2 separate regions of the Homo sapiens genome follow, and region 2 is linked to region 1. Evidence: fine-mapped expression QTL. A gene starts in region 1. The other region holds a variant in brackets. All regions are shown on one strand. Distances are between the middles of the regions.

The links. PIP is the estimated chance that this variant, and not a neighbour inherited with it, causes the effect.
Region 2: its variant is fine-mapped to the expression of NLN in whole blood (INTERVAL, PIP 0.97).

What each region holds. Positions count from the first base shown.
Region 1 is chr5:65,716,226-65,732,037 of GRCh38, forward strand. NLN (neurolysin) reads left to right here and starts at 5,980. Exons shown (of 13, transcript NM_020726.5): 1 at 5,980-6,189. The coding sequence starts at 6,149. It overlaps SGTB (small glutamine rich tetratricopeptide repeat co-chaperone beta), which reads right to left and starts at 5,884. Exons shown (of 11, transcript NM_019072.3): 1 at 5,692-5,884; 2 at 4,483-4,604. The coding sequence starts at 4,582. RefSeq lists silencers at 3,214-3,410, 5,455-5,504, 5,565-5,614, 5,685-6,294, 11,080-11,129 and enhancers at 6,571-7,392, 7,165-7,244.
Region 2 is chr5:65,780,174-65,795,985 of GRCh38, forward strand. NLN (neurolysin) reads left to right here. Exons shown (of 13, transcript NM_020726.5): 5 at 6-108; 6 at 1,088-1,248; 7 at 5,602-5,737; 8 at 7,945-8,311; 9 at 12,281-12,482. Among named protein-coding and RNA genes, the nearest start is that of NLN, 66 kb to the left of the region's middle. The variant A/G (reference allele first, on the strand shown) is at 7,865.

The DNA of each region.
Region 1 (15,812 bases):
GTACATTTATAAAGAGAAAGCTAATAATGGCTGAAGCCAAATGAGAAAGGGGAGGAGTAGGTGAACAATATGTCACAGAAGTCAAATTATATAGATCCTTTAAACAATGTTTTGAGTAGATAAATGATAGAAACTCACATACTCTGTTTGTAAAGATCACTGGTGCCTGTGTTTGGAACAGCCAATGGAGGGGCAAGAATAGAAGCAGAGAGACCAGTTAGAGGCTATCACACTAAAACAGTCAAGAAATAGTTCAGTCCAGAGGTGGTATAAGAGATGTCAAATCTAGACATATTTTGAAAGTGTAGCCAACAGGATTTATTGAATGATTAGTTACAGGGTATTTGAGAAAGAGAAGAGTCCAGAATGATACCCAAGTTTCTGGCCTGAGCAACAGAAAAGATGACGCTGACATAAACAGAGATTGGGAAATTGCATACAGAACAGATTTTGGGTGGGGGAATCAGAAGTTCGGTTTTGGCCATGTTAAATTTGGGATGCCTATTAGACATGCAAGTGGAGATATCTAGTAGGTACTTGGATATATAAGACCTTCAGAAGAAAGGTCTGGGCTGAGGGCATAAATTTGGGAAATAGCATATAAATAAGGGGTATTTAAGGCTAAGAAGCCGAATGATATCACCAAAGAAATGGGTATAGATAATGAAAAGAAGAGGATCAAGCAGTGGACCCTGGGTACACCAGGTCAGGGAAAAGAAGAGGAACCAGAAAAGGGGACAGAAAAGAAGCAAACAATGAGATAAGAAAGCCAAGAAAGTATGAGGTATCCTGGAAACTAAATAAAATATACTGGGGGTGGTGGGGGTCATTTCATGAGGAAATGACCATCAACATTATCAATGACAGCTAATAACTCAGATGAAAGCTGAGAACTGACCATTAAATTAAACAACACAGAAATCACTAATGTCCTTGATGAGAGTGGTATAGATTGAGAGATTGAGGCAAAGGCTTAATCAGAATGGGTTTAAGAAGAATAGAAGGAGAGGAGTTGGAGAAAGCAAGTATAGACCATTCTTTCAAATGGTTTTGCTGCAAAGGGAGACATACAATTAAGCAGTAATTATTTGCTGTTTGTTTTTGCTTTTTTGAAGAAGGGAGAATAATGGTAAGTTTATATGATGATGGAAATGATCCAGTAGGGTATGAAAATTTTATGATGTAAGATTAAAAAAATAAAATAACTAAAGTGATATCCTGGAGTAGGTGAGACAGGATGGGATCTAGTATACCAGTAGAGGGGTTCCATTTAGAAAGGAACATGAATAGTCCATCTATGGTAATAGCTAGTCAAACAGGCAGGCAGGCCGAGTATGTGGGTGCCATCATATCCAGCTATTTTCTTATTATTTCAGCTTTCTTGGTGGAGTAGAAAGCAAGGTAACCAACTAAAAGTGAGGACAGTGAAGGAGGTTTGAGGGTTTGAGAAGATATGAGAAAGTGTTAAAATGGTCATCTAGGAAAATAAATGTATGAATGAACTTAGAACAGATACTGTGATTGCCTGACAGCATTAAAGGTCTACTTGAAGTTCACAGTCATGAATTTAAAGTGGGACTAGTCAGCAAAGTTGTGTGTTTTGCTCCATTTATTTACGGCTACATGAGTGGGTGTGAGTAGTTGGGCACAAAGTAGGTGGAGAGTTGGATTTAAACAAAGTTGGGCTTTGCAAGAAAGGGAAGGAGATACAAGGGAATAATTATAATTATCAACCATGGAATTTAAGATGAGTAAGAAGAGGTGTGGGGAAAGGTGAGGCATGAACAGATTGGAGGTACTGGTTGGGTCAAAGAATAGCTGGAGTAGGGATTCTAGAGGGAGTAATCTTGGAAAGACAGGCAATAGTGGTCAGGAAGTGAAATGTTTGGGATAGAGATTAGGGAAGGAATGCAATTCTGGTAATGATTAAGTCTAGGGAAGGCTTTCTCAATCTCCGCATACTGACATTTTGGATCAGGTAATTTCTTCTTGTCAGGGGCTGTCCTGTGCATTAGCAGCATCCATGGCCTCTACCTACTCACTAGATGCCAATAATACCAGCCACCCGCCTCACCCAGTTGTGACAATCAGAATGTATCCAGATATTGCAAAATCACCCCCAAGTTGAGAACCACTGATCTAGAATATGATCAAGTGTTTGAGATCACTGGATGAGGTCAATAACTGAGAGCCAGGGAACTAAAATAATCATCAATCAGTATATTGCAATTGCCAAGAACTAAATAGGAGTAGTGCTAGAGAGAGTGACAGTGAGCAGGAACCACAATTAGTCAAGGAATGAAGCAAATGTCAGTAGATGACAATAATTAAGAGGAGTGGGTGACATAATCTGATGGCAAGACAAAGCTGATGATATACCAGCTTCACAGTAGTGGTAAAGCTGGTATTAGAACTGAGGCTTCTTTCCTAGGGCTTTTAAAAATGTCTAGAAGGTGGGCAGACACCTCCACATGATTTCATGTTCAATTAAATTAGACTCACAGAGTCAAAAATAGGGGTCAGTCAAAAACAATTGGCACCCTTTCTGACTGCCATATATAACAAACAGCTGAAGGCACATATTTTTGGCTGAATACCATCCTAAAAATAGGACATAACATCTTGGTTTGAAAAAAAAACCCTCAATTTTCTTTCTGGCCCTTAAAACTTTTATGCTGCTTTTGATTAGAAAAGAAACATCTTTTCTTAAATGACTGCATTTATCTGTTTGCTACAGAGCAATCATAACTAACATTCTCCTTAGATAACCAATCAACTTTATTTTCACATAGTCTAATCATCAAGGAGAACAAAAAGACCTTAATATTAAATGGACTGATTGCAATGTTCTCCAACTGTGCATCACCTGCTCCTCTCACTGCCACCTGGAAAGACATCAACTAACCAGACTGCAAGGAGGTTTAGAGCAAATGCCCAATTTTCATCTCCACCTCCTAAAAGCATATTCACAGGGAAATGCTTGTTGAAATTATAGAAGCAGTTTCAAGATGGGATTTATAACTATACTGTCATTTATTAAGTTCTTCCAAATGCACTCTCACTGCAATAATTAAGACTTTGGGGCTGGGAGGGGTGGCTCATGCCTGTAATCTCAGTACTTTGGGAGGCCAAGGCGAGTGGATCACTTGAGCCCAGGAGTTTGAGAACAGCCTGGGCAACATGGCGAAACTCTGTCTCTACAAAAAAAAATACAAAACTTAGCCGGGTGTGGTAGTGTACTCCTGTAGTCCCAGCTACTCAGGAGGCCGAGGTGGGAGGATCAATTGAGCCCAGGAGGTGGAGGTTGCAGTGAGCCGAGATTGTGCCACTACACTCCAGCCTGGGTGACAGAGCCAGACAGACCCTGTCTCAAAAAATAAATAAATAAATAAAAGACTTTAGGCCACAGGGACACCAGATTCACTGAACCTCCACAAGCCCATCTGCAGAATTCTACCTTGTTATGGTTGTACTGAATTTAAATTTTATAACACATAAACATGAAGAACAAAGACGGTGTCGAGGAAACACATGATGCTATCACCCACATCCTGTTCAACTTTACAGATTACCGAATCCAATATTAAAGTTAACGTAAAACACAGGTGAAATGCTCCCATTTCAAGTTCCAAATTAGGCACTGGTCAGATCTCACTAGTGGTATAATTATTAGACTTTTACATAGTGCTATTAAAATGACTCAGGTATTTTTATATATTATTTCTAAACTGGATGCTTTCCTATTAGGAAATGGAGACAACAAGATCTTCAGAGTATTAACCAGGATTTAAATCTCAGCTTTATCACATATCAGCTGTGTTATCTGCTTACGCTATTTGGTTTCATTTTCTTTTTCTTTTTTTTTTTTTTTTTTTGAGATAGGGTCTCGCTCATGGCCCAGGCTGGAGTGCAGTGGTGTGATCTCAGCTCACTGCAACCTCCACCTCCTGGGTTTAAGCCACCCTCCTATCTCAGCCTCCTGAGTAGCTGGGACTACAGGCAAGTGCCACCACACCTGGCTACTTTTTGTATTTTTAGTAGAGACAGGGTTTTGCCATGTTGCCCAGCCTGGTCTTGAACTCCTGACCTCAAATGACCTACCTGCCTCGGCCTCCCAAAGTGCTGGGATTACAGGCATGAGCCACCAAGCCTGGCCCTGGTTTTATTTTCTCACTTGTTAAATGGGGATAATACTAACATAACAGTTGCTGTGAAGAAAAAATTGCCTATAATATGAACAGCATACTTCTGACATATAGTATTTGTTCAATAAATGAACAATAGTCCTCTTAATTTGTTGTTAAAACAAACAAAACAAGCTTCAGAAAATGGAAATACGATAACCTTATAGTCAGGCCTCTCCTCTTGAAAGATCAAAAAAAATTCTGATTATGTTACAATAGATCATCAAGTTGGGCTTACAGCTATTTTAGTCTTCGTTTATAATTATAATATAAATGAACACAAAGAGCAGATGCATACCTTCCAAACTTTCTTGTTCATCCGAGGTGTAAGTGTCCATCTGACTTTGTTCCCGTAAGAAACGAATAACTGCATAAACCAGGTGCTTGATAGATGACATTTTAGAAGCTTAAACACTTTTCCTTGATAAGAAAAATGAAAACACTGAACTAAGTTATTTTAAAGAATCAGTCAGGAAAGTCATAAATTACAAAGATGATATGGGTTATAAAGTGTATTAAAGGTAAAAACAAAACACAAAACTGTATGACCTTTCATCTTTTCTCTTTGTAAAGAGTCAGGAGAGCACAAAGTATTGTGAAGGTAATTTATTACATATTTTCATTAATACCCAGTGGTATACGAGTATGTTAAATCTTGGAATAAGTAAAAATGTCTTCAAAACATGTACAGCATAAGCTTAGACTGTCACTGCATATCTCACCATACAGAAATCCCCTAAAGGCCTCAGTACTAAGTTAAGAGGCATTTCATACTGCTGACTAAAAGCTGATGTATACCAAGCATCTTCCTCTTTTTCATGGGATCTAAAAAAAGTATTAATAATGTACACTCTACCCACTTTTGTAGGTTGAGAGTTATTTGATGAGGAAACACATTCGCGAAAGGTTATTCAAGTGGTGAGTGTCGTTCTTAATAAAAATGGCATTTCTATTTAATCAGCAGACATGTCAGGAAATCGCTGCCCAAGTCGATGGATACTACAAGCCGACCGGCGCTCCCTGCAGAGGCTGTGCTCTCGTGGACAAGCTGGAAGCTCCCGGTCATGTTCATTCACATGGAATACTATCGCATCCAAACAGTGGCGCAGGGCCAGGCGGCATTCATGGCTGATTTCCACCAAATCGCATCATCCATCTGCTCCCCAGGTTCCCTAATTCAAAGCCAGGGTGTGGTACCCGCCGCTATAATGTTTATTATTTGTGTAGTTATTTTAAAGGCGATGTCAGCCTCTAGGCCACGGGGTCATAAGCACTAAATAAGGCCCCAGGGCAGAAGGTAAAAACAGAATGGGGGGAAAAGGGGTGAGAAGAGGGAAATAGGCTTCTCCCCCTTCCTCTCCCCAGAGCGCATCGAGCTCCCCCTCCCTTCCGTCCTCCCTCAGGTACCCGGCCTCGCCTCGGCCCTGCCCGGTGTGCAGCGGGTGCCGGTGCGGGCCCCGGTCCGGAGCGGCGGGAGGCGCACCCTTGCCAGACAGAAGCCCCTTACCAAGCAGGAGGACGCGAGACGACTGCTGCTGGCCCGCGGGGTTCCGTAGGCAGGCCCGCCCGACCCCTGGTCCTCGGGGCTGGAGCCCGGCTCGGGATCGCAGCACTGGTCGCGGCGGCGCAAACTTCCCCGGCCCCTAGGCCGTAGACCCCAGAACCCACCAGGCTGTGCTCTCTCTCAGGCGGCAGGGTCTGGCCAGCACCGCCCCTGGGGCGGGGCCGGACGCGAGGGCTGGGGCGGGGCCAGACACGCGAGCTGGGGCGGGGCACGGCGCGGGGCGGGGCTGGTAGGCGCCGGCGTGGAGCTGCCGCACGTGGGAGGGCGCTGGCCAGGCAGCCACTGTGGCCTCTGCGGCTAGGCCGGCTCGAGACTCCCGGGCGCCCAGGCGCTGCCGCCCGCCTCGCCGCCCCACGCCGAAGGACCACGCGCCCGCCGCCGCCAGCCTCTCAGCGCTCCCATGATCGCCCGGTGCCTTTTGGCTGTGCGAAGCCTCCGCAGGTACCTCCAGCGCGCGGGTTAACCTTGGCCGTGGGCAGGGCGGGGTCTTTCGCCGTGTGGTGCCTGGAGCCCGGACCCACCCCTTCCCGACCGCGCCTCTCCGACGCTCCCGGGACGCACCCTCCCCGCGGCTTGCAAGGTGGACCCCTGGGGGACACCTGGCGCGGCCACCTGGGGCCACCTTTCCCGCCTCCGCTCCCTCGGGAGGACGTCCATTCCTCTTTGTTTGGGACTGCCTCAGCCGCAGTCAGCGAGGCTGGTCACAGACGCGGCCCAAAATGAATGCAAATAGTTTGGATAAGAAAATCATTTCACGTTCAATCCCAATGCAGAACTACAGACCTGTCATTAAAAGTGCCGCAGCTGTGGACTCAGAACAATTGTGTTTGCTCCTCGCGCCCATTATTAGCATTCCAATCGTTTAACATCCACCCGAGATGAAACCTCTTTGGTGGTGTTGCTTGTTTCCGTCCATGCTCTCTGACTTCCTTTTTTATTTTCCTCCTCCCCATAAAACAAACATTCTGCCTCTTGCCGGTGCAAATTGACTTGGCCCAAAATGGAGAAAATGATCGCTTGGACACGGCTTTGGGCAGCCTGAGCTGCTGTTTTGGATTGCTTCCTAGCCCTCTAACCACACCCCACTGCAACAGACCAGTAGCAAGATGGTGAGGGAATTAAATTCTTTGCACGGATGCGCTGGTTTTCGGAAACAATGCCGCCACCATCCCCGTTTCCAAATCTGCCCAGAACTGTAAATCCAAATGAAGATTCAACAGAATAAAGAAAATGTGTGCTTCTTGCTAGCTATCAACAAAACTACTTTGTAACATGTCAGCATTTAAGCTTTCTACAGTTCCCTTTTGCACATTGCCACTCGTCTGTGTGGATGGAGCTTTGTGTTGCTCAGTCCGTAGAGTTAGGGAGCAGGCAGGCGACAGTGGTTAATTACAAAGAGTTAATGTGGTGATTGGTGACCATATTTCAGCCTGTCGTTTTTTGCTAGTCTCCAGGCTGCAATCGATATAGCTGTCAAATGAAGTTATACCAAGAAATGAAGACTTCACATAATGCAGGGGTGAGAGGAGGGAATAAATCTTCATATAAGAGCAATTCTCGGCCGGGCGCTGTGGCTCATGCCTGTAATCCCAGCACTTTGGGAGGCCGAGGCGGGTGGATCACGAGGTCAGGAGATCGAGACCATCCTGGCTAACACGGTGAAACCCCGTCTCTACTAAAAAATACAAAAAATTAGCCGGGCGTGGTGGCGGGCGCCTGTAGTCCCAGCTACTCGGGAGGCTGAGGCAGGAGAATGGCATGAACCCGGGAGGCGAAGCTTGCAGTGAGCCGAGATCGCACCACTGTACTCTAGCCTGGGCGACAGAGCAAGACTCCGTCTCAAAAAAAAAAAAAAAAAAAAAAGAACAATTCTCAAACTTTTTATTCTCAGGACCCCTTTACCTTTCAAAAATTACCGTGGACCTAAGAGCTTCTGTTTGTGTGGTATATCTGTCTATATTTACCATATTAGACATTAAAGCTGGAAAAAAATTAAAGTAGTTGTTAATTTACAAAACTAATAAATAGGCTAGGTGCATAAATAGTGATTTTAATGAAAAATAACTATTTTCCAAACCAACCCCCCCGCCCCCCAATCAGTGAGAAGATTAACATTGTGGGGTTTTTTCCCTTTTTTTTAAAATTGTGGTAAGATATAACAAAATTTACCATTTTGATAATTTTTAAGTGTACAATTGAGAGGTACAGCCAACACCACTGTCCATCTCCAGAACTTGTCATCATCCCAAACTGAAACCCTGTACCTATTACACAATAACTGCCCATTACTTCCTCCCCCAATCCCTGGTTAACCATTATTTTTTCTCTATGAATTTGAGTATTTCAGGTCCCTTATATAAGTGGAATTAGACAATATTTGTCCTTTTGCGTCTGGTTTATTTAGTATAGCGTTTTTAAGGTTTATTCGTTTTGAAGCATGTGTCGGGATTTCCTTTTTAAAACTGAATAATATTTCATTGTATGTATATACCACATTTTGTTTATCCATTTGTCAGTGGACATTTGGGTTGCTTCCACCTTTTGGCTATTGTGAATACTACTACTATGATCATTAATGTGCACATGTCTGTTTGAATCCCTGCTTTTAATTCTTTGGGATACTGTATGTACCTAGAAGTGAAAATTGCTGAGTCATAGGATAGTACTATGTTTAGTTTTTGAAACCATACTGTTTTCTTCAGTGGCTGTACCATTTTTACATTCCCATTGGCAGTACCTAAGGATTCCAATTTCTCCACATCATCATCAGCACTTATTTCCTGGTTTTGATAACAGTTATCCTAGGAGTGGCATTGTTTCTTTTTTTTTTCTTTTTTTTTTTTTTTGAGACAGAGTCTCTCTCTGTCGCCCAGGCTGGAATGCAGTGGCGCTATCTCGGCTCACTGCAAGCGCCGCCTCCCGGGTTCACGCCATTCCCCTGCCTCAGCCTCCCAAGTAGCTGGGACTACAGGCGCCCGCAACCACGCCCGGCTAATTTTTTTTTTTTATTTTTAGTAGAGACGGGGTTTCATCCTGTTAGCCAGGATGGTCTCGATCTCCTGACCTCGTGATCCGCCTGTCTCGGCCTCCCAAAGTGCTGGGATTACAGGCGTGAGCCACTGCGCCCGGCAGAAGTGGCACTGTTTCGCATTTTTGCAAAACTAATGTGTGACATAATAGAAGGTAACTGGATTCTTATGTCTGCCTCTGCATTTAAGCTGCTGCACTGTTTCATTTTGGTTTAAGATGAAGAAAATCCCACCTCACAGTCATATGAAGTTGGAAAGAAGAATATTTTAATAGCTTTTTAAAGATAATCATGGATGTTCTTTGATATCACATCAAAGTTTGACAAATCGTAGCTTTTTAAAGGTTAGTTACAAAGTGGAATTTGAAACTATATCAATGTACTTGTTTTACACTGTTACATTAATATCCAATGGTGTACCTTACACTTTGAATGGATGTTGAATCCATGCCTGTTTTTTAAAACATTAAGCATAAGTCCTTCGGAAATTTTAGTGGTTCACTGTGTTATACAGTTCTTCCTAATGTTGACATATTTCATTATACAGTATCAAACAATCACTTTCCTTAATGTCTTCCTATTTAGTCGGAAAAGTCTTCAAGTATTGGGAAGCTGTCAAGCTCACAGTGGCAGATAGGATTTTCCAAAATTCTAGTTTTCACTTGAAAGCTAGAATTTTATCATTGGTAACACAAACTGTCAGTTGTTTTACTTGAAGTGACAATCTCACTTTGTTACATTTTTGACAGAATTTCTGCCACATACTTAAGTCTGAATAACCCTGGTTTGTCTGTCAGTAGTTTTTTTCTGGTAAAAATGGTGTTCCATGGGCTGGGCACGGTGGCTCACGCCTGTAATCCCAGCACTTTGGGAGGCCATGGCAGGTGGATCACGAAGTCAGGAGATCGAGACCATCCTGGCTAACACGGTGAAACCCTGTCTCTACTGAAAATACAAAAAATTAGCCGGGCGTGGTGGCGGGCGCCTGTAGTCCCAACTACTCGGGAGGCTGAGGCAGGAGAATGGCGTGAACCCGGAAGGTGGAGTTTGCAGTGCGCCGAGATTGTGCCACTGCACTCCAGCCTGGGCGACAGAGCGAGACTCCGTCTCAAAAAAAAAAAAAAAAAAATGGTTTTCCATGAAAAAAATCTATTTCAGCTCACAGTTCAACCAATTGCAAAAGTGCTTTTGATTTGGGCAACCAAATCCTCAGGACAACCCTTATACTCAGGTACACAGCAGAAATGCTTTGTGTGTACTTGGTCACATATAACTCAAAGGTAGAGATTTAATAAAAATTCATACTTTTTACCATTTCATTAAGGATATTCTAAAATGAAATTGACATTATTTTTAGCCTGAGTGCATGGCAATGAAAAATATAGCTACTAGTATAGTTTGGTGTCATTGCCTCAATTTGTGCTGAAGTACCAACAGTATTATCCACCATTCCTTTTCGCCATCAGTGCAAATGTTCATAAAGTAAAAAGGATAAATAATGTCTTAGTATTGTTATGAAAGATTTTTAACCTCACAGATTCCTTGAAAGTGTCTCAGGAACCCCTCCCCATACCTCTACCTTTAAGGTTTGTGGACTACATTTTGAGAGCTGCCGATATGTGGTATTAGATTCTTTGTTTATGCATGGAAGAAAATAAATATACTAATAGCCAAAAAATTATTACCTTGTTAGAAGCTACCATAAATATATTAACTAATTTGTTACATAAGGGCATATCTTACAGTTAATCATCATATATGGTAGTCCTTAACCCAGGGCTTCCTTGACTTAATCACAGAATCTGCTCTGTTTCAAAATCAGTATCTTCCAAAAGAGTTCATATTAGACAACATGGAGGACCCCCTGTGTTCTCCTGTTTTTCCTGTTTCCTCTGACACTTGGGAGTTCATTTTAGTGTTATGGAGTAACTAGGCTTTTGCCTAACTGACTTACAGTTTCCATTGGGTTTTCTTGTTGGCAGAGCTGCTATATCCCCTTCCCAAGGCCAGCTTCCAGCTAGGATCATTGATTGGGGTGTTCAGCCAACTTCTTGGGAATAAGTGGACTGAGAATCTGGAGTTTGGATTATAGTTGCTGTTCAATTCACTTTGTGACCTTAAAAAAATCACTCACTCCCTTGGACCTCTTTCAAGTTATGTACCTATGTATGTATGTATTTTAGAGACAAGGTCTCACTCTGTCATCCAGGCTGAAGTGCAGTGGGGCATGATCATGGCTCACTGCGGTCTCAAACTCTGGTTTCAAACAATCCTCCCTGCCTCAGCCTTCTGAGTAGCTGGGACTACAGGCGCTCACCACCATGCCCAGCTAATTTGAAAAAATTGTTTGTAGAGATAGGATCTTGCTATGTTGCCGAGGCTAGTCTAGAATTCCTGGCCACAAATGATCCTCCCATCTCAACCTCTGAAAGTGCTGGGATTACAGGAGTGTACTATCATGCCTGGCCCAGGTTCCTTATATTGTAAAATGAAAAGGACTAGACTAAATAATAGCTAAGGCCTTAAAAAAAAAACAAAAAGCAAAAAACCTCTATATTGCCATAGCAAACCAGGAGAATTCCTCCTCCTACCTCAGATTGTACAGCATGTGACCCAAGCAAAGCCTAATGTATATTATAGAATAAGAGGGATGAGTGACATGGTCAAAGAAACAAACGAGAAGGTTGACTCAACAATATTTAGCCGAAACAATAGCTGTAATAGCCTAGCTTCCTCTTGCAATTAGAAAAGACAGCTTGGTTTGTTTTTTGGTTTTTGTTTTTTTGAGACAGTCTCGCTCTGTTGCCCAGGCTGGAATACAGTGGCATGATCTCGGCTCACTGCAACCTCTGCCTTCTGGGTTCAAGCAATTATCCTGCCTCAGGCTCCTGAGTGGCTGGGATTACAGGTCCCCACAACCACGCCTGGCTGATTTTTTGTATTTTTAGTAGAGCTGGGGTTTCACTATGTGGGCCTGGCTGGTCTTGAACTCCTGACCTCAAGTGATCTGCCCACCTCAGCTTCCTAAAGTGCTGGGATTATAGGCGTGAGCCACTGCACCTGGCCTAAAAAACACAGCTTGGTTTTTTAAAATGATGACAGCAATGCGTGTTCATTATTGAAAACTTAGCAAGTAATGACAAGCAAAAGAAAATATTAAATATATATATAATCCAGCCACCTGGAACAGCCAATTCTTAACAGCTTTCAAAATTTCCTCTATGAACAGACTTTCTTTTTATAAATATGATATTGTTATTCTTTTATAATTTTTAATATTATACAAACATCCCCTAAAATATAAATAGCTATAATATATTCCTTTTGGGGATGTATGCAATTTGATTAATATACGCCTTTAGAAATGTCAACTATTCCCAACTTCCTGCAATGAGTAATAGTGCTTGGATAAACATTCCTATTGTCCTTTTCCAAATCTTTAGTTATTTTCTTAGTATAAATTCTTACAAATGGAATTTGTACATCAAAGGGCATGCATACCTTTCAGGTCTTTGGTACTTATCATCTTATTCTATTCTAAAAACTTTCTCCCAAATTATAACCTTACCAGGTGAGTAAGTAAATGCTGGTTTCCTATACTGTTACCAACATTGAGCATTTTAATTTTTTTTATCCTTACCAGTTTGATAAGTGGAAATTTCTCTTATTATAATTTGCATTTTCATACATTTTTGGAAGGTTTATTCAGTGAGTATAATTCCTAAACAAAAATTCAGGAGTTGTGGTCTGGAAACCAAAAAGTTATTTGTTGTCTGATGTGAAAATTTATTTATATGGAAAATCTTAGAAAGTCAGACAAATTCAATTACAGTTTTCTTGGTGTTTTTGTTTGTTTGTTTGAGACAGAGTCTCACTTGGTTGCCCAGGCTAGAGTGCAGTGGCATGATCATGGCTCACTGCAGCCTCGACCTCCCGGGCTCAAACGATCCTCCCACTTCAGCCTCCCGAGTAGCTGGGACTACAGGTGTTTGCCACCACACCCGGCTAATCTTTGTATTTCTTGTAGAGACAGGGCTTCGCCATGTTGCCCAAGCTGGTCTCTAATTCCTGGGCTCGAGTGATCTGCCCGCCTCAACCTTCCAGAGTGCTGGGATTACAGGCATGAGCTACTGGGCCCAGCCTAAATTACAGTTATTAATAAACTTAACAATATTTACAGGTCTAAGTGTAATTAAATAAAATTGAGATTATTCCTCTAAAACCAGTAGGCATAATCTCCAAAATGTTAAGAGAACAGTATTGGGGAAAAAAATCTAGTAAAGAAAGGGTTTTTTAAGTTAAAGTATCAAGAGCTAGGTTGACATTATTTGTACAAATGGATTTGGTTATAAAATAGGTTTTCTTTTCTTTTTTTTTTTTTTTTTTTTTTTAGGATGGAGTCTTGCACTGTTGCCCGGGCTGGAGTGCAGTGGCACGATCTTGGATCACTGCAACCTCCGCCTCCTGGGTTCAAGTGATTCTCCTGCCTCAGCCTCCGGAGTAGCTGGGATTACAGGCACCTGCCACCACGCCCAGCTAATATTTTGTATTTTTAGCAGAGACGGGGTTTTACCATGTTGGCTAGGCTGGTCTCGAACTCCTGATCTCATGATTCACCCGCGTCGGCCTCCCAAAGTGCTGGGATTACAGGCGTGAACCACCGTGCTCCGCCGAGGATTGATTTCTTTCTTTTTTGTTTGTCCTTTAACCCTGGTTTTGGTCAGAAGCAACCTGGTTCTTTCTCAGAGTTAAACATTATCACCTCTTTGGTTAAGACAAAGCACAGGACTTACTTGGGAAGAATCCCCTGAATTAAAGATATGAAGAACCAAGGAAACTGATGTGTATTGAATACATATGTAAATGCCAAGCTGCCGCATTGCAAAGTGCATGTAGCATCATAGAGTCGACTATATAAATCTAGAAACAGCTCGCCTGAGTTTGAATGCTGGTTTTGCCACTGACTAGCATTGTGATCTTAGGCAAGAATACTTAAGTTCTCCGTATCTGTTTCCTCCTCAGTAAATTGATAATTGATTGGCTGATTTCTTCATTCACCAAATATTTATTGTCTATTATATGCGAAATAGTATTCTTGGTCTGGGGATATAGCAATGAACAAAGCAGATAAAAATCTTTGCATTAATGGAACTTACATTCCAGTGGGAGAGACAACTAAGGAAAATATAAAGTAAGTTAGATGGGAAAATGTGCTGCAGAGCAAAAGTAAAATGGGAAAGGGGAATGCTCAGTACCGATAGGAAGGAAATTGTAGAGTCAACAGGAAAGGCTACCAAGAAAGTGATATTAATACTTGAGTAATGATCTAAGAGAAATGAGCAGTTGTGCTATGTGAATACCTGAGGCAGGTCATTCTAAGCAGGAGAAACGGCACACACCAAGGCTCTGAAAGCAGGGCTATGCCTGGTGTTTTTGAGAAAGTAAAGAGACCATTGTGACTAGCATGGAATAAATGTCAGGCAAGTAAGTAGGAGATGAGACAGGGAAAAATTGGACTCATCCTTTTTTTTCTATTTTCTTCTTTTTTTTTTTTTGTTTTATTCGTTTGTTTTTAGATGGAGTCTCACTCTATTGCTCGGGCTAGAGTGCAATGGCGCAATCTCAGCTCACTGCAACCTCCTCCTCCTGGGTTCAAGCAATTCTCCCACCTCAGCCTCCTGAGTAGCTGGGATTACAGGCACCCGCCATCATGCCCAGCTAATTTTTGTATTTTTTGTAGAAACAGGGGTTCACCATGTTGGCCAGGCTGGAACTCTTGACCTCAAGTGACCCACCTGCCTCTGCCTCCCAAAGTGCTGGGATTACAGGCGTGAGCCACCGTGCCTGGCCTGTACTCACCTTTTAAGATTGAAACAAATATAGAACACTTTGAACATTGCCTGGTTATATCCATTCCTATTACCACAAAAATGCTGTATAACAAACTGAATTTCAGTGGAGTACAATGATCAATGTTTATTTTTGCTGACAAATCTAGATTTTGGCTGGGCAGTTTTTCTGATCTTAACTCATTCATGCTCCTTCAGTCAGCCATGGGTTGTGTAGGCAGCTCTGCTGATCTCTGCTATCCTCTCTCACATGTTTGGTGATGTAGGATGGCCACAGCTGGGGCTATTTGGCCCTCTTTCCTGTGACGTCTCGTCCTCCAAGAAGCCACCTCTGGCTTGTTCTCATGTCAGTGGCAGGGTTCCATGAGAGAGTGGAAGGCAGTTGGAACTGGAACCTCATTAGCTCTGCCACATTCTACTGGTCAAAGCAAGTCACAAGGCTAGCCCAGATTCAAGAAGTGGGGAAACAGACTCTATCTCTTGATGGGTAGAACAGCAAACTCACATTGTTAAGAGACATAGACTCATAGCAGGTAGAAAATTGAGGCCATGTTAGTTATCAGTCTACCACATCGGCACATAATAAAATCTCGAGAAATATTAGTTACTGTTTTTACTTGTGTGAATTGCCTAGTTTTATTTTGGGATTTTTAAAATTAGGATTATTACTTTGTAAGAGCCCCTCATAGATGTTTCAGTTGTTTTTGATCTTTGAACTTTTGGGGTAGATTATTGTTGCTTTTTGCTTTTTTGCTTTATCCCTACAAAAGTTTAAATTTTTATACAGTCAGAAATATCAGTCTTTTCCTTTATGATTTCTGCCTTTGGTCTCATTCCTAGAAAGTCCTTCTCCACCCCAAGATTATGTATTTTAAAAATCACCTACATTTTCTTTTTTTTTTTTTTTTTTTTTTTTTTCAGACAGAGTCTAGCTCTGTCACCCAGGCTGGAGTATAGTGGAACAATCTCATCTCTCTGTAACCTCTGCCTCCCAGTCTCAAGCAGTCCTCCCACGTCAGCCTTCCAAGTAGTTGGGACTACAGGTGTGAGCCACCACACCTGGCTAATTTTTGTATTATTTGTAGAGACAAGGTTTCACCATGTTGCCCAGGCTGATCTCAAACTCCTGGGCTCAAGCAATCCTTCCACCTCAGCCTCCCAAAGTGCTACGATTACAGGCATGAGCC
Region 2 (15,812 bases), 64 kb after region 1:
TTCAGGAAATCAAATCAATGAAGAAAAGAATGAGTGAGCTATGTATTGATTTTAACAAAAACCTCAATGAGGATGATACCTTCCTTGTATTTTCCAAGGCTGAACTTGGTAAGTTTTATTATTTTTCTAGATTAAATCATATAATTTAGGCAAATAGTGTTACCTCACAGTTTGTTTTACTTTCCAGATACAAAATTTCTAAATCATAGTTCAAATAATTATTTAAAAAATGATCCAGTACCTAAGTCCACCACCCCTTCTACAGAAGAGACAATCAAACCAACCAAAATTAGATTTTAGGCTAATGAGGGTATATAAAATTTCTAGAGACAGTCCAGAGGGGACTTAATAATCTTTTTTTTTTTTCATAATTTTTCTTGGTAGTTTATAGTTGTGTTTAACAGCCTTCAGTGCCTTAAAATTTTTTTTTGACTTGCATTGTTTCCTGCATTGTATCTTAAACTAGTCTCTTCTTACTCAGTCCTGGGTCTTTTTTCTTTTCTTTTCTTTTCTTTTTTTGAGACGGAGTCTCGCTCTGTTGCCAGGCTGGAGTGCGATGGCGCAATCTCGCCTCACTGCAACCTCCACCTCCCTGGTTCAAGCAATTCTCTTGCCTCAGCCTCCCAAGTAGCTGGGACTACAGGCATGTGCCACCACGCCCAGCTAATTTTTGTACTTTTAGTAGAGACGGGGTTTCACCATGTTGGCCAGAATGGTCTCGATTTCTTGACCTCATGATCCACCCACTTCAGCCTCCCAAAGTGCTGGGATTACACGCATGAGCCACTGTGCCCAGCTTTCCTGGGTCTTTCTTCACTTAATTTTGCCTGTTCTCCACTGAAACATCATTTGCACAAGTTTACTGAAACCTGTTCATATTTTGAATTGCCGTCTCCCAAGGCACCTGGCCTCTAACAGCCACCCCAATTCCAGCAACATCAAAATGATATTTAAAGGATTGTCATTATTTTACTTGAATTTCAATTACTACACAAAATTCCTAGAGCTACCAAAAGGCACCATGCCAATACTAAATAAACCAGCAATGAGTGGAAAATTTGATATATGAGAAAATGATTTTTTGCAGGTGCTCTTCCTGATGATTTCATTGACAGTTTAGAAAAGACAGATGATGACAAGTATAAAATTACCTTAAAATATCCACACTATTTCCCTGTCATGAAGAAATGTTGTATCCCTGAAACCAGAAGAAGGATGGAAATGGCTTTTAATACAAGGTGCAAAGAGGTATTATAAATGTTTGTCTTTCTTTTGTTTTTAATGGAATATTTTAAGAAAAGGGTTTACTTTGTTCACCAGTGTCAAAGTCAGCTCAGAGACTGATATTCCTGTGTGTGCACTGTATCTCTAATTCCTCAGACTTACAAGACTTTTAGCTTTTTCATTGCTCATTGACAACCTGCTTGGTGTGGTCACAGGATAAGCTGTTCTAATAAAAATAGAATGGATTAAATAAATTAGAATTCTGTTGCTCCTCTCCTAAATCAACAATCCAGCACTGGTAAGTCCTGCTTTAATATGAAAAAGAAAAAAGGAAGAAGTAGACAGGGATTCTCAGTCATCTAGCCAGTTCTACCGTGATCTGCCTCTCTAGCTATCCAAGTAACCATGAGGACCCTTTTTTCCTTACATAGGACCCATTCACCATTTGTTAATTCCCAGTTACTGCCTGAAGCTCAAAGACCAGGATCTCTGGGTGATACAGTTCTTCCTGGTTGTAGCTTCTCATAATCCAGCAAACTATAAAAGGAAGACAAGTTATCAGCTCCTCACCCCCACACCCTCCCCCAACACTCCCAGTGATGGCATAGGAAAAGAATAACCGCACTGAAAAGTCCCATTTGGAAAAAGAAAGACTGGGAAACATAGCAAGCTCATAGCAATTTTCTAAAATTTTCAAATTCCTCAGGAACTGGGAAGATTCTGTACTATGGTGACGTTTCTTGGTTAGCTTGTTGGACTAAACTTGGGTCTGCTTTCTCATAAGAATTCCTTTATCAATTTTACTCCATGGCCCCCAGTTTTGCCCACAGGGAATTGTTTTTGTCCATTATCCTTGATGACCATATCTTGGGGGACTGCTGGTCCTGCTAATGTCAGGTAGAATCCCAAGGGTTGCTTTAGGGATCAAATAATCCAAACTTTTGTAGGCCAGACTTACGATATCTTTGGTAATACAGCCTCCTCAAAAATGTAGGTTTGTTGTCTGTTTGCTGCTAATCAGATGCATGTCAAAATAACTATACCCAAATATCACTTTTGGTCATAGTTCTTAAACTTGCCAAATCTTATATACTGTCTTCTGAATTTATCCATCTCACTCTTCCTCCATTTAATGAAGTCTGCTTTCAGGCCCTCTGAACATAGTGAGCTTGTGGAGGAAGGCAGCATTCTCAAATTCATGTCTGCAGTTCAGTAACTCGGAGTGACAGCCTTTTCTCTTAACACTAGGAACACAGAGCAATTGGCTTTTCCAACCATCTGAAGATTGTAGGCCATAGGCAGAACCTCCCTGAGCAGAATTCTTTTCCTTCCATCTTTAGAAACTGGCCAATTCTCACCCAAGCTTATCTCTCCCATGTAATCTTTCAAAAAGCAACAAATGCCAAAAAAACACCTCCCAACAGTATTAGCTTTCCCAAACAATTCCTCTAGGCTAAGACTCAGTAGGTACATGGCCTGCTGTCTGAGTTATGGCAAGCAACAGTTTTCACAAATGCCCATGGTATAATGAGAACCTGCTTCCCAGCCTGCAATGTCTGGGTCCTTACCTTCCATTCCTGTACATTTTTCATTTTTATTGTTAGTACCACCCAATTTCTGGTATTAATCTCTACATATGTTAGGGTCCAGGCTAAGGGACTTGACAGAAGTCAAAAGCACAGTTAACTCAAATAAGATAAAAGTTTTATCTTTCCAGAAAGTAGATTAGAGGTTACCAGGGAATGGGGAGAGGGAAGACTGAGGAGTTAATGGTTACAGAGTTTCTGTTTGGGGTAATGGATAAGTTTTAGAAACAGATGATGGTAGTGGTTGCACAATAGAATGAGTATTATTGCCGTTGAATTTTACATGGCTAAAATGGCAGATTTTACCACAATTTTTTTTTAAAAGATTTGTCTTATAACTGTAAGTCAAGAGGTGAGTGGTCCAGAGGTGGAAGACAGCTCTACCATCCTCAGGGTGTGGCTTTCAGGGTCATTGAGGTCATCTTCAGTTCACAGCCAGCAAGGCAAAGATCTATCAGACATGACCCAGAAATTTCACTCATCACTTCATTCACATCCCATTGTCCCATTGAGTATCACATGGCCACAGCTGGCTTTGAGGAAGGCTGGGAAACGTAATTAGGTAACCAAGTGTCCGGCAAAAATTCAGAGTTCAGCCAGGCACAGTGGCTCACACTTGTAATCCCAACGCTTTGGGAGGCCAAGGCAAGAGGATTGCTTGAGGCCAGGAGTTCAAGACCAGCCTCAGCAATATGGCAAGACCTCACCTCTATGAAAATTAAAAAAAAAAAAAAAATTCAGAGTTATATTACTAAAAGAAAAAATGAGAGAACAGATATTGGGAGAAAATTGGCAGTCTAGAGAGAAGATCTGGAGAAACTGCAAAAAATGAAAGAAAAATCTAATTAAACTATTTAATTTTAGAACTTGGAGAATTACATTATGTATGTTTCTCTTCTATGTTTTCCATTTTAGTTTTAAAATAATAATAATTATAACAGATAATTATATAGTGTTTGGTTATGTGCCAGGCATTTGTCTAAGCACTTTACATATATTTTCATTTGAATCTTCATGATTACTCTCCAGTGTATGTATTTTTATTTTCCACATCTTGCAAATGAGAAAACTGAGGGTCAGAAAGCTCCAGAATTTGCCCAAGATCAGGTAACTAGTAAATGGTGGAACCAAATTTTGAATGCAGGTAGTGTGACCTCAGTGTGTGATTTTCCTTAGAAACCAGTCTATAAATAATTTGCTGATTTGATTATTGGAATCAGTTTTTTCTTTTACTTTAACATTTACTTACTTCCTCTAGGAGAATTACTTTTATTTCATTGCTAAGAAAATAATAAAATAATATCAATTTTTGTATTTTTAATACAAATAAAATATAAAAGATATTTGTAATGTTAATTTGGGAAAAATCCCTGAAACATTTTTAAAAGCAGAATTTTATGGTGCCTTAGTTCATTTGTGCTGCTATAACAAAATACCACAGACGAAGTAATTTATGAACAATAGAAATTTTTCACAGTTCTGAAGGCTGAGAAATTCAAGATCAAGGGGCATCGGCATTCAGTGTCTAGAAAGGGCCTTTTTTCTATATCCTCACATGGCAGAAGGGGGAAGGGCAGAAAAGGCCCAAGTTCTTTAGCTGTAGCCCTTTTATAAGGCACTAATTCATTGGTCAATTCCCAAAAGGCCCTGCCATTTAACACTACCTCAAAAGGGATTATGTTTCAACACATGAATTTTGGGGAACATTCAGACCATAGCATGTGGCATTAAGTATATTCACATTGAGAATATGTTTATATTTTTCTGCAGCCATCACCTGTATCCACCTGCAGAGTTTTTTCATCTTCCTTAACTGAAACTCTACCCATTAAGCATTAACTCCCCATTATCCCCTATCCCCAGGCCCTGGCAATTACTATTCTATTCTGTGTCTCTGTGAATTTCACTACTCTAGGAACTTCATATAAGTGGAATAATAAAATATTTGTCTTTTTGTATCTGGCTTATTTCACTTAGCATACCTTAAAGGGTCATCCATGTTGTAGCATGTGTCAGAATTTCCTTCCTTGTAAAGGCAGAGTTATATTCCATTGTATATATATACCACATTTTGTTTACCTGTATATCTGTCCATGGACACTTGGGTTGCTTCCATCTTTTGGCTGTTATAAATAATGCTGCTGTGGACATGGGTGTATAGATCTCTCTTCGAGTCTCTGCTTTCAATTATCTTTGTTATTTACTGAGATGTAGAATTGCTGGATCATATGGTATAATTTTTTTAGGAATCACCATACCGTTTTCTACAGCAGCTAAACTACTTTACATTCTCATCAGCAATGTGCAAGGGTTCCAATTTCTCCATTTCCTCACCAGCACATTTTCTATGTTTTTAAAAATAGTAGCCATACAACTGGGTATGAAATTAAAAAGATAAATTTTACGTTATGTGTATTTTACCACAATAAAAATGTCCAAAGGAACTGAAAGTACCAATATTTGGTGCAGTTCTGTCAGTAGAAGTAAATATGGATTCGCTATATTCCTTAAAAATATATTTTCACTCTAAGTTTGTAGCACCTACAATTTTATTAAGACCTCATAGTTCTGAAGTTTAAAAAGTCATAAATTGTTTCAGAAATAAAACGAAATCATGAATCCAAAAAAAAAAAAAAAAGCCTATAACACCAAAATGGAACCAGAAATTTAAATGGTCTAAAAATATTTGATAATTTTACAAACCTAAAAATACATACAGTAATTCTTCCTTTTAGTGCTTTGGATCAAATTATTGATTAGCCTTTATTTTGTTGCTGTTGTTTATTACTAGGAAAACACCATAATTTTGCAGCAGCTACTCCCACTGCGAACCAAGGTGGCCAAACTACTCGGTTATAGCACACATGCTGACTTCGTCCTTGAAATGAACACTGCAAAGAGCACAAGCCGCGTAACAGCCTTTCTAGGTTAGTTCTTTTTTTTTTTTCTATGACTGTTTTGCTATACCATGTCAACCAGACAGAAGGCCTCAGAACATAATATGCCTTTGAGGACATCCTACTTTTCCTTCATTTGAGAGAAGTATATTGATCACCTATTAAGTGTTAGATAGTGTGCTTGGTTGTAGGGACTGCTTATTGTTTATATTGCTAGTATAGGCCTGGCTTCACTGTATCTTATATCTTCTTTAGGCTTTTTATACTAATTCCTAACATGACATGTAGGTTCTAACAGAGAGTTACTAAAGTTACTGGCTTTATTCTCTTCACTAGGGATTTAGTAGTCATAGCATGGCTGCTTATGAATTTGTATAAAATAAGCTGACAAATATGACGTACATAAAAATAAAACATACATAAACAAAAAACATTTAATATTCCAGAAACCACTTGTTAATATACAAAACTAATATAAAATAATATACATAAAACTAGTATCTAATAACTAATATAAAATAATATGTATAAAAACTGTTATCTAGTAACTATAATGTTAAACTCCATAAATGGTACATATTTGTTTTTGTATAATTCACTCATTCATTCATGAGACGTTTATGAAATAACTATTCAGCCTTAGGCAGTATGCTAAATAGTAGGATTACAGAAAGGAGTAAAACAAGGTCCTTTTGGCTGGGCATGGCAGTTCATGCCTGTAATCCCAGCACTTCGGGAGGCCGAGGTGAGAGGACTACTTGAGACCCAGAGTCCAAGACCAGCTTGGGAAACAAAGAGACCCCAACCCTGTCTCTACAGAAAAATTTAAAAATTAGCCAGGCATGGTAGCACATGCCTGTAATTCTAGCTACTTGGGAGGCTGAGGTGGGAGGATCCCTTGAGCCCAGGAGTTCAAGGCTGCAGTGAGCCATGATCATGCCACTGTGCTCCAGCCTGGGTGACAGAGCAAAATCCTGTCTCTAAAAATAAAAATAATTTTTTAAAAAGAGACAAGGTCTTTTTCTCAATGGATTTGTCACTTACTAGAAACAACAGAAGTGTGAACAGGTAATTACTCTACAGTCTGATGCATGGTATACAAGAGGATGGCTCAGAGAGTTAACAGGTTTGTAAAGAATGTTTCCTTCAGTGGTGATTGCATACACTAAAATTTTCCTTAGTAACCACCTGATTAACTTAATTCATTTAAAGGAGTTTTCCTTCTAATTTGAGATTGGCATATTCCTATGCAAAGTGTCCTCTTGAGAGGCTAAAGTGCGAGGATCCCTTGAATCTGAGAGTTGGAGTCCAGCCTGGGCAACATAGCAAAACTCACTCACTCTCTCTCTCTCTCTTTATATATATATATATGTATGTGTGTGTGTGTGTGTGTGTATACATACATGCGCACACACAGACACATGCACGCACACATGCACATGGATATATATATGGAAAACTATATCTTTGTATCCTCCATGAGTTTCCTCACTTCTCTTCACGGTATTCCTCGGGCTGCTCCTCCATCTCTCACATTGTGAGGTTGCCTTCTGAACTGCCATGTCCTTTGCAGAGCCAGGCATGTTTTTATCGTAACGTATGTAACAAAATGTAAAAAATAAATACATAAGACCATACTCATTTATCCAAATACAGTAAAGTGAAAAATTGACCACAGCAATATAATTTGTGGTTCTCAGAAGTTTCTCCAGCTAAAAACTGGAATTGCTGTGTCCAGATAAACCTTCACAGAAATGGGGTAATGAGAAACTAAACCCAGTGATAGGAATTTCTAGATAACATTGACCACAGGTCACATCTGATGTGTTTTCCCTAGCTTTCTTAGGAGTCTGACTGTCTTCATTGAAGAATAATCATGTACATGACTTTAGTTTCACTAGTGCTTTTTTCCCTGAATAACATTCTTCAGTCAGCGTTCTCTGAGATAAACTTGAGCTTTGGTGATGAATTGAGGAACTCATGGCCCAGTTCTGGGGGTGTTAAAAGAAAAAGGGGCTAGGACCATAAAATCAATAACCCCGAAGAGCAAAGTGTGCTTCCATAATACAGCCTGCTTTCCTCCCTCACGTTTTTCCTCCTCCTTTACCTCTTTCCGCCTTATTTATCTGTATTGAGTACTGCAAAGGAGGAAGCACC[A/G]TGCTAAAACACAGGTGGTATTTATGAGTATGCTTGCTTCCAAAAGCAAGTAGATCACTAACTTTTCCTTTTCCTTACAGATGATTTAAGCCAGAAGTTAAAACCCTTGGGTGAAGCAGAACGAGAGTTTATTTTGAATTTGAAGAAAAAGGAATGCAAAGACAGGGGTTTTGAATATGATGGGAAAATCAATGCCTGGGATCTATATTACTACATGACTCAGACAGAGGAACTCAAGTATTCCATAGACCAAGAGTTCCTCAAGGAATACTTCCCAATTGAGGTGGTCACTGAAGGCTTGCTGAACACCTACCAGGAGTTGTTGGGACTTTCATTTGAACAAATGACAGATGCTCATGTTTGGAACAAGAGTGTTACACTTTATACTGTGAAGGATAAAGCTACAGGAGAAGTATTGGGACAGTTCTATTTGGACCTCTATCCAAGGTACTGAGGATCACGTTGTTGGAAGGGACCTTAGGGATTCAGCTATGCCTACTTTAAGACTCTACTCTTGGCCAGGCACAGTGGCTCATGCCTGTAATCCCAACACTTTGGGAGGCCAAGGTGGGAGGATTGCTTGAGGCTAGGAGTTCGAGACCAGCCTGGGCAACATAGTGAGGCCCTGTCTCTACAAAAAATTTAAAAATTAGGTCAAGTGTGGTGGCTCATGCCTGTAGTCCCAGCACTTTGGGAGGCCGAGGCAGGTGGATTGCTTGAGTCTAGGACTTCAAGACCAGACTGGGCAACATGGCAAAACTCTGTTGCTACAAAAAATACAAAAATTAGCCAGGTGTAGTGGTACATGCCTATAGTCCCAGGTACTTGAGAGGCTGAGGTGGGAGGATCACTTGAGCCTCAGAGGTGGAGGCTGCAGTGAGCCAAGATTGCAACACTGCACTCCAGCCTGGGTGACAGAGTGAGACCCTGTCTCAAAAAAAAAAAAATGAAAAATTAGCCAGGTGTGGTGTGCACACCTGTAGTCCTAGCTGTGCTGAAGCAGGAGGATCACTTGAGTCCAGGAGTTTAAGGTTACAGTGAGCTATTATCACACTGCTGCATTCTAGCCTAGGTGACAGAGCTAGACCCTATCTCTAAAAAAATTAATTTAAAAAAAGACTCTACTCTTCCATATTTCTCACATGGGCTTCTTAGTATACAGATTTAAAATGTGGGTCTGAAGCCAGAATGTCTGGCATCATCATTTACTAGGTAGGTTACTTAATTTTTCTGTGCCCCAGTTTTCTTACCTATATTATAGGTCCTATAAACTGGGAATATTAGTAGTACCTGCTTTGTATGGTCACTGTAAGGATTAAATTGGTTGAATACATGCAAAGCATTTAGAAGACTGCTCAGCACATAGCAAAGGCTTAATCAGAGTTAGCTGCTACCATTGTCATTATCATCATCATCTAGTTTGTGCACTACATTTACTTAATTGAATATTGACCACCACCCAGACATGGTGGCTCACACCTGTAATCCCAGCATTTTGGAAGGCTGAGGTGGGCAGATCACTTGAGGTCGGGAGTTCAAGATCAGCCTGGCCAATATGGTGAAACCCTGTCTCTACTAAAAATACAAAAATTTAACAGGCATCTGTAGTCTCAGCTACTTGGGAGGCCAAGGTATGAGAATAGCTTGAACCCTGGAACTGAGATCACGCCACTATACTCCAGCCAGGGCGACAGAGCAAGATTCTAACTCAAAAAACATAAATAAATAAAATTGAGCACCAAAATATTTATTAGATAATCTGTCTGCCAATAATCTATGGCCACTCCCTTCAGTCTGGCTGAGAGGCAGCACAGTTTAGTAGAAGTAGCAAAACCTTTGCAGTCAGTCAGATTTGAGTTTGAATGCTTGAGTGACATAACCTCTTTGAGATTCTGTTTCTTCCTCTGTAATATGGGACTGGAAATCCTTTTACAGGATTGTTTTATGCATTAAAGACTATATGTGCAAATCATCTTCCCCAGATATCAGTGGTAACAATTATAAAAATGTTATAATTGTGTCTATAGCATGTAATAACTATAGATTCCATAGTGTTTCATCAGATACAAAAGGATTTGGATCTCTTTCTCCCCAGGCTACTTTCTAAAGCAAAGTCAACCTCTTACAATTACTAATCATTTAAATAGATCAAAGGAGAGTATAGTATCCCCCTCATTCAGTAATACACACAAGTTTGTAATCCACTGACTTTGAGTGCTGAAAAGTAGGTTGAGTAACTGTGTCATCTAGTTGGTGGGCAGAAGTGTCTTTTAGCACCTAAGTGATTATCCTGGTGTATTAGTCCTTTCTCACAGTGCTGTAAAGAACTGACTGAGACTGGGTAATTTATAAAGGAAAGAAGTTTAATTGACTTACAGTTCTGCAGGGCTGGGGAGACCTCAGGAAACTTACAATCATGGCAGAAGGGGAAACAAACACATCCTTCTTCACGTGGCGGCAGGAAGGGGAAGTGCCAAGCCAACAGGGGAAAGCCCCTTATGAAACCATCAGCTCTTGTGAGAACTCACTCACTATCATGAGACTGGCTACCCCATGAATCAATTACTTCCCACTGGGTCCCTCCCACGACACGTGGGGATTATGAGAACTACAATTCAAGATAAGCTTTGGGTGGAGACACAGCCAAATCACATCACCTGCTGCTTTATGGACTTACTTTCACTAATATTATGACCTAAAAGTAAAACCCTGCCAAATATAGATGAGTCTTATTTTTAAATAAAAAGTATCAGGATATAGTTTTAACCGAAGAACTCTTTCAGGAGTAATCCTTTAATATTGGAGTCTCCTATAACTGTCCTCAGATTTTCTTTCCAGCGTCAAATAACAATTCTTGCTACCTCATTCTGCTGTCTCACTGCCAGGATATAATTAATTTCTTTTGTACTGAGAGATCTGGTCATTGCTACCAGCACCCTGGTGTGGGTAACAGAGAGTAATCTTTGTGAAAGTAGTGACCTAGTTAATACTTACTTCCTGTCATCTTAAGATGTTCTCTTCATAAAGGTAAAAGGGATTAACTTGTTTTATTTGTCTAACTGACTTTTAAAAAGGGTATTCAGAATAGGTTTTAAAAAGACCAGGTACTGTCTGGGTGCAGTGGCTGTAATCCCAGCACTTTGGGAGGCTGAGGCAGGTGGATCACTTGAGGCCAGGAGTTCAAGACCAGCTTGGTCAACATGGTGAAACCCCATCTCTAGTAAAAATACAAAAATTAGGCTGTGCACAGTGACTCACACCTATAGTCCCAGCACTTTGGGAGGCCAAGGAGGGCAGATCACCTGAGGTCAGGAGTTTGAGACCAGCTTGGCCAACGTGGGAAAACCCCATCTCTACTAAAAATACAAAAATTAGCTGGGTGTGGTGGCAGGCACTTGTAGTCCCAGCTACTCTAGAGGCTGAGGCAGGAGAATCATTTGAACCCAGGAGGTGGACATTATAGTTAGCCAGTATCTTGCCACCGCACCCCAGCCTGGGCAACAGAGCAAGACTCCGTCTCAAAACAAGAGAACAAAATTAACCAGCGTGGTGTTGTATATATGTAATACCAGCTACTCAGGAGGCAGAGGCAGGAGAATTGCTTGAACCTGGGAGGCAGAGGTTGCAGTGAGCTGAGATCATGCCACTGCACTCCAGCCTGGATGACAGAGCAAGACTCTGTCTCAAAAAAAAAAAAATAAAAAGACCAGGTACTATTAGTCTTCTGAGCAAAAGAAAAGGGGGAAAGGACACGTACTCCCAAAATGAAGTCTGATAGCTTTTGGAGAATGAAGTCTAATAGCTTTTGGAAAGACCACACAGATACGACACTGTACAAGAATAGTCTAATTGATAGTATAATTTATGCATTTTCCCAGGCTAACTAAAAGCATTCTGTTTCAAAAAGGCCTGTCTAGTTTATAAAAGAAGCTTATTTAATTGTGATTACTGATTCTTTCCTCCTCAAATAAAAGGAAAAACCTTATCGTCAGAAATTCAGTTTTTTATTCCGATTTTAATGAAAAGGCTGCCTAGTGAGTCAAACTGTATCTTTTATTTCAAATGTGGGTTTCAGCATTGTTTAGTGTTTAGTAATCCCATCTTTGAAAAAGAAAAGTAGAACCTCATTAAAATAAATTGGACATTCAGCTGTCGGTGTGACATGCATTCTTCATTCTTACCTCGAGATTTTTCAATAAAAGAAACTTCGGAGCTCACACAGAATGTTAGTGGGGTTATTGTTTGTTTAGCTTTAGTTTTTCCATTTTAGCAAAATAACCTACTTTCTAAAAGGTAAATTAATGTTTAAAGGCATCTCTGGTAACAGATATGGCTTAATGACTGGAAGAGGCCATGCCAGTGTAGTTGCTAGAGGAGAATTTTCCTATGTTGCCAACGCGTGTTTCTGGCTCCTAGGGAAGGAAAATACAATCATGCGGCCTGCTTCGGTCTCCAGCCTGGCTGCCTTCTGCCTGATGGAAGCCGGATGATGGCAGTGGCTGCCCTCGTGGTGAACTTCTCACAGCCAGTGGCAGGTCGTCCCTCTCTCCTGAGACACGACGAGGTGAGGACTTACTTTCATGAGTTTGGTCACGTGATGCATCAGATTTGTGCACAGGTGAGTTTTTTTTTTCCCCCAGTAAACCTGCCAATTAGTTTTTTTAGAAAACTTCTTGACTGCTGTCAGGTTTCTGCTCCTAACAGGTTTTTTCAGAAGCTGAATGTGTTCAAGAATTTTATAGGCCTTCTGCAAAACCAAAATTTTCCTTATCCTGTCCTCTTTCACAACATATTTTTACTTGGAGGTTCATCTACCAGTGAAAGATGTTTGTTGAATAACAGCCTATGGAAAAAGAATAAGACTATCTGTAAGGAAAGGTTACAAATACTTTGCTTTTTCCTTTTAATCCTTTAGGAATTTGATATAAATTTCTCAGAAAAACTGTGCTGTAATCTGTCTCTTCTGCTTATCAATGCTTTGTTTACTTTAGTGGTTTTTCAATCCTCTTAGACCCTTTACTCATTTTTAAATAATAATTTTGTAACATTTGCCTTTACTAACTTCAAATTAAAATCATAGATAATATAGTCTAACCATGCAAAGAATTTGCCAGAGTGGAGGTGTATGTGTGCAGTAGATTAAAACTGATTTTTTTATTTCTGAAAATAAAAAGTACATTTATTCTCAACTTTGTAATACAGTCCATTTAATTAGGCCCAGACTATTCTAGCATGAACCATATGAACTTGCTAACATTTAACCATTATTAACATATGAAAATGTCTAGTTCAGCAATTCACCGTAATAGTTGAAATATACTGTTATTTGGCTGGGCATGGTGGCTCATGCCTGTAATCCCAGCACTTTGGGAGGCCAAGGTGGAAGGATCGCTTGAGTCTAGGAGTTTGAGAACAGCCTGGGCAACGTGGTAAAACAAACAAAAATTATCCAGGCATGGTGGTATGTGCCTGTGGTCCCAGCTACTCGGGAGGCTGAGGTGGGAGGATCACTTGAGTTCAGGAGGTTGAGGTTGTAGTGAGCCATGATTGTGCCACTGCACCACAGCCTGGGTGACAGAGCAGACCTTGACTTAAAAAAAAAAAAAAGAAAACCACCCAAAAAACTGATAGTAACAGAAATGAAGGTACAGTTTTCCAAATTTGAAATCTCTGTATGTCTCTAAAGGTAGACTTAAAAAACAACAACAACAAAAACAAAAACATTTTTATTAGGATACTTTTAGATTCATAGAAAACTTGCAAAGATGATATAAGGATTGCCTGTATACCCCTCAGCCTCTCACCCCTACTTGTAACATCTTCCATTCCAATAGCACATTTGTCATAGCTAAGAAGCCAGCATTGATACAGTACTCCAGACTGAACACCACAGTTTATTTGGATTTTACTAGTTTTCCTTAATGGTCTTTATACAGAGAATCTTCTTAAATCCATACGGTGTCCTCACTGAATATAAATAGAAGAAATTTTTGTATTTTTCAAGTGATAATGCTTGGATATGACTATGCAGTAAGACATAATGAAGTATGCTGGAGGTTTGCACTGTATGGAAGTAACCCTGAATGGAGCAGCAGCAAGTGCAAACTGATGGAAGTGGTTTATGTTGTCAGCTCAGGTCCTAGAACAGTGCTGACAATGGTGGCATGAGGTTCCAAAATGATGAACACCTCCTGGGAAACTTCAAAAGAAAGTAATCTCACTTCAACTTACACAGTAGATCCTAGTACTTGTAGTCTTAGAAATTAAAATGGTGTAAAAAATGCTTCGCAAGGCTAGGCATGGCAGCTCACACCCACAACCCCAGCACTTTGGGAGGCCAAGGGCGGCAGATCGCCTGAGCTCAGGAGTTCAAGACCAGCAACATTGTGAAACCCAGTCTCTACAAAAGATACAAAAATTAGCCAGGTATGATGACACACACCTGTAGTCCCAGCTACTCAGAAGGCTGAGGCAGGAGGATTGCCTGAGCCCAGGAGGTCGAGGCTGCGGTGAGCTGTGATCGCGCCACTGCTCTCCAGCCTGGGTGAAAAAGTGAGACCCGGTCTCAAAAGAAAAAAAAAATGCTTTGCAAAAATATGTACAGTGGGGTTAGTTTCTCGGTTTAGTTACAGCTAGTTTTTTTGATTTATGTGAATAGTCCAGCAGGGGGTATGAATGACGAGCAGGATATGGAACAGTCTTTTTGTTGTCCTGACATGTGCAGAATCAGTCCTGTGCATCCAGCATCCCTATATCCCAGAGTAGCCCTAATCATTGTAATAACCCAAAATGTACCCATTCATTTCCAAAATAATTCTGTCACCTTTGTTTAAAAACTGGTTCTTTCAACATTTTATCTTTAACCTGGTGCTTCCATCTTTTGTTTTAAAAAACAGAGGGGAATAGTATATGAGTATGTCCAGAGAAATGTCCTGATATGGCCATTTTTAATCTCTCTTTAATCCAAGGAAAATAAATCTTTCAGAATAATCTTTCTTTCTTAGGTGTTTTTAAAATTCATTTTCATAGCACTGACTGGGCGTGGTGGTTCATGCCTGTAATCCCAGCACTTTGGGAGGCCGAGGCAGGAGGATTGCTTTGACCCTAGGGGTTCAAGACCAGGCTGGGCAACATGGTGAAAACCCATCTCTACCAAAAATAAAAAAAATTAGCTGGGTGCGGTAGTGTGGCTAGGCTTTGCAAGGCTAGGCATGGCAGCTCACACCCATAACCCCAGCACTTTGGGAGGCTGAAGGGGGAGGATGGTTTGAGCCTGGAAGGTGGAAGTTGCAGTGAGCTGAGAGTGTGCCATTGCACTCCAGCCTGGGCAATAGGGCCAGAGCCTGTCTCAAAAAATAAATAAGATAGGCCAGGCATGGTGGCTCACACCTGTAATCCAAGCACTTTGCGAGGCCCAGGCAAGTGGGTCACCTGAGGGCAGGAGTTCGAGACTAGCCTGGCCAACATGGCAAAACCCCATCTCAACTAAAAATACAAAAATTAGCCGGGCATAGTGGCACATGCCTGTAATCCCAGCTACTCAGGAGGCTGAGGCAGGAGAATCGCTTGAACCCAGGAGGCAGAAACTGCAGTGAACCAAGATCGTGCCACTGCACTCCAGCCAGGGTGACAGAGTGAGACTCTGTCTCAAAATAAATAAATAAATAAAGTCTATTATCATAGCACTAGGATTCCTGAAATATTTATCGTGTGGACCTTCTATCAATGTCCACACTGTGGTTGACATTTCCTTTAATTAGGATAACTCCAGTTTACATTTAAAAAAATTTTTTGTAATTTAGAAGTCAAAAATATTTTTCTTAATTTTAGACTTATGGTATATTACTTATATTATCCAAAATCCAGTTATATGTTTGTACATAGATTAATAATGACCTGCTTTTAAAATAGTGGATGCTCACATTTTTGGATCTGAGGACCCTATGAA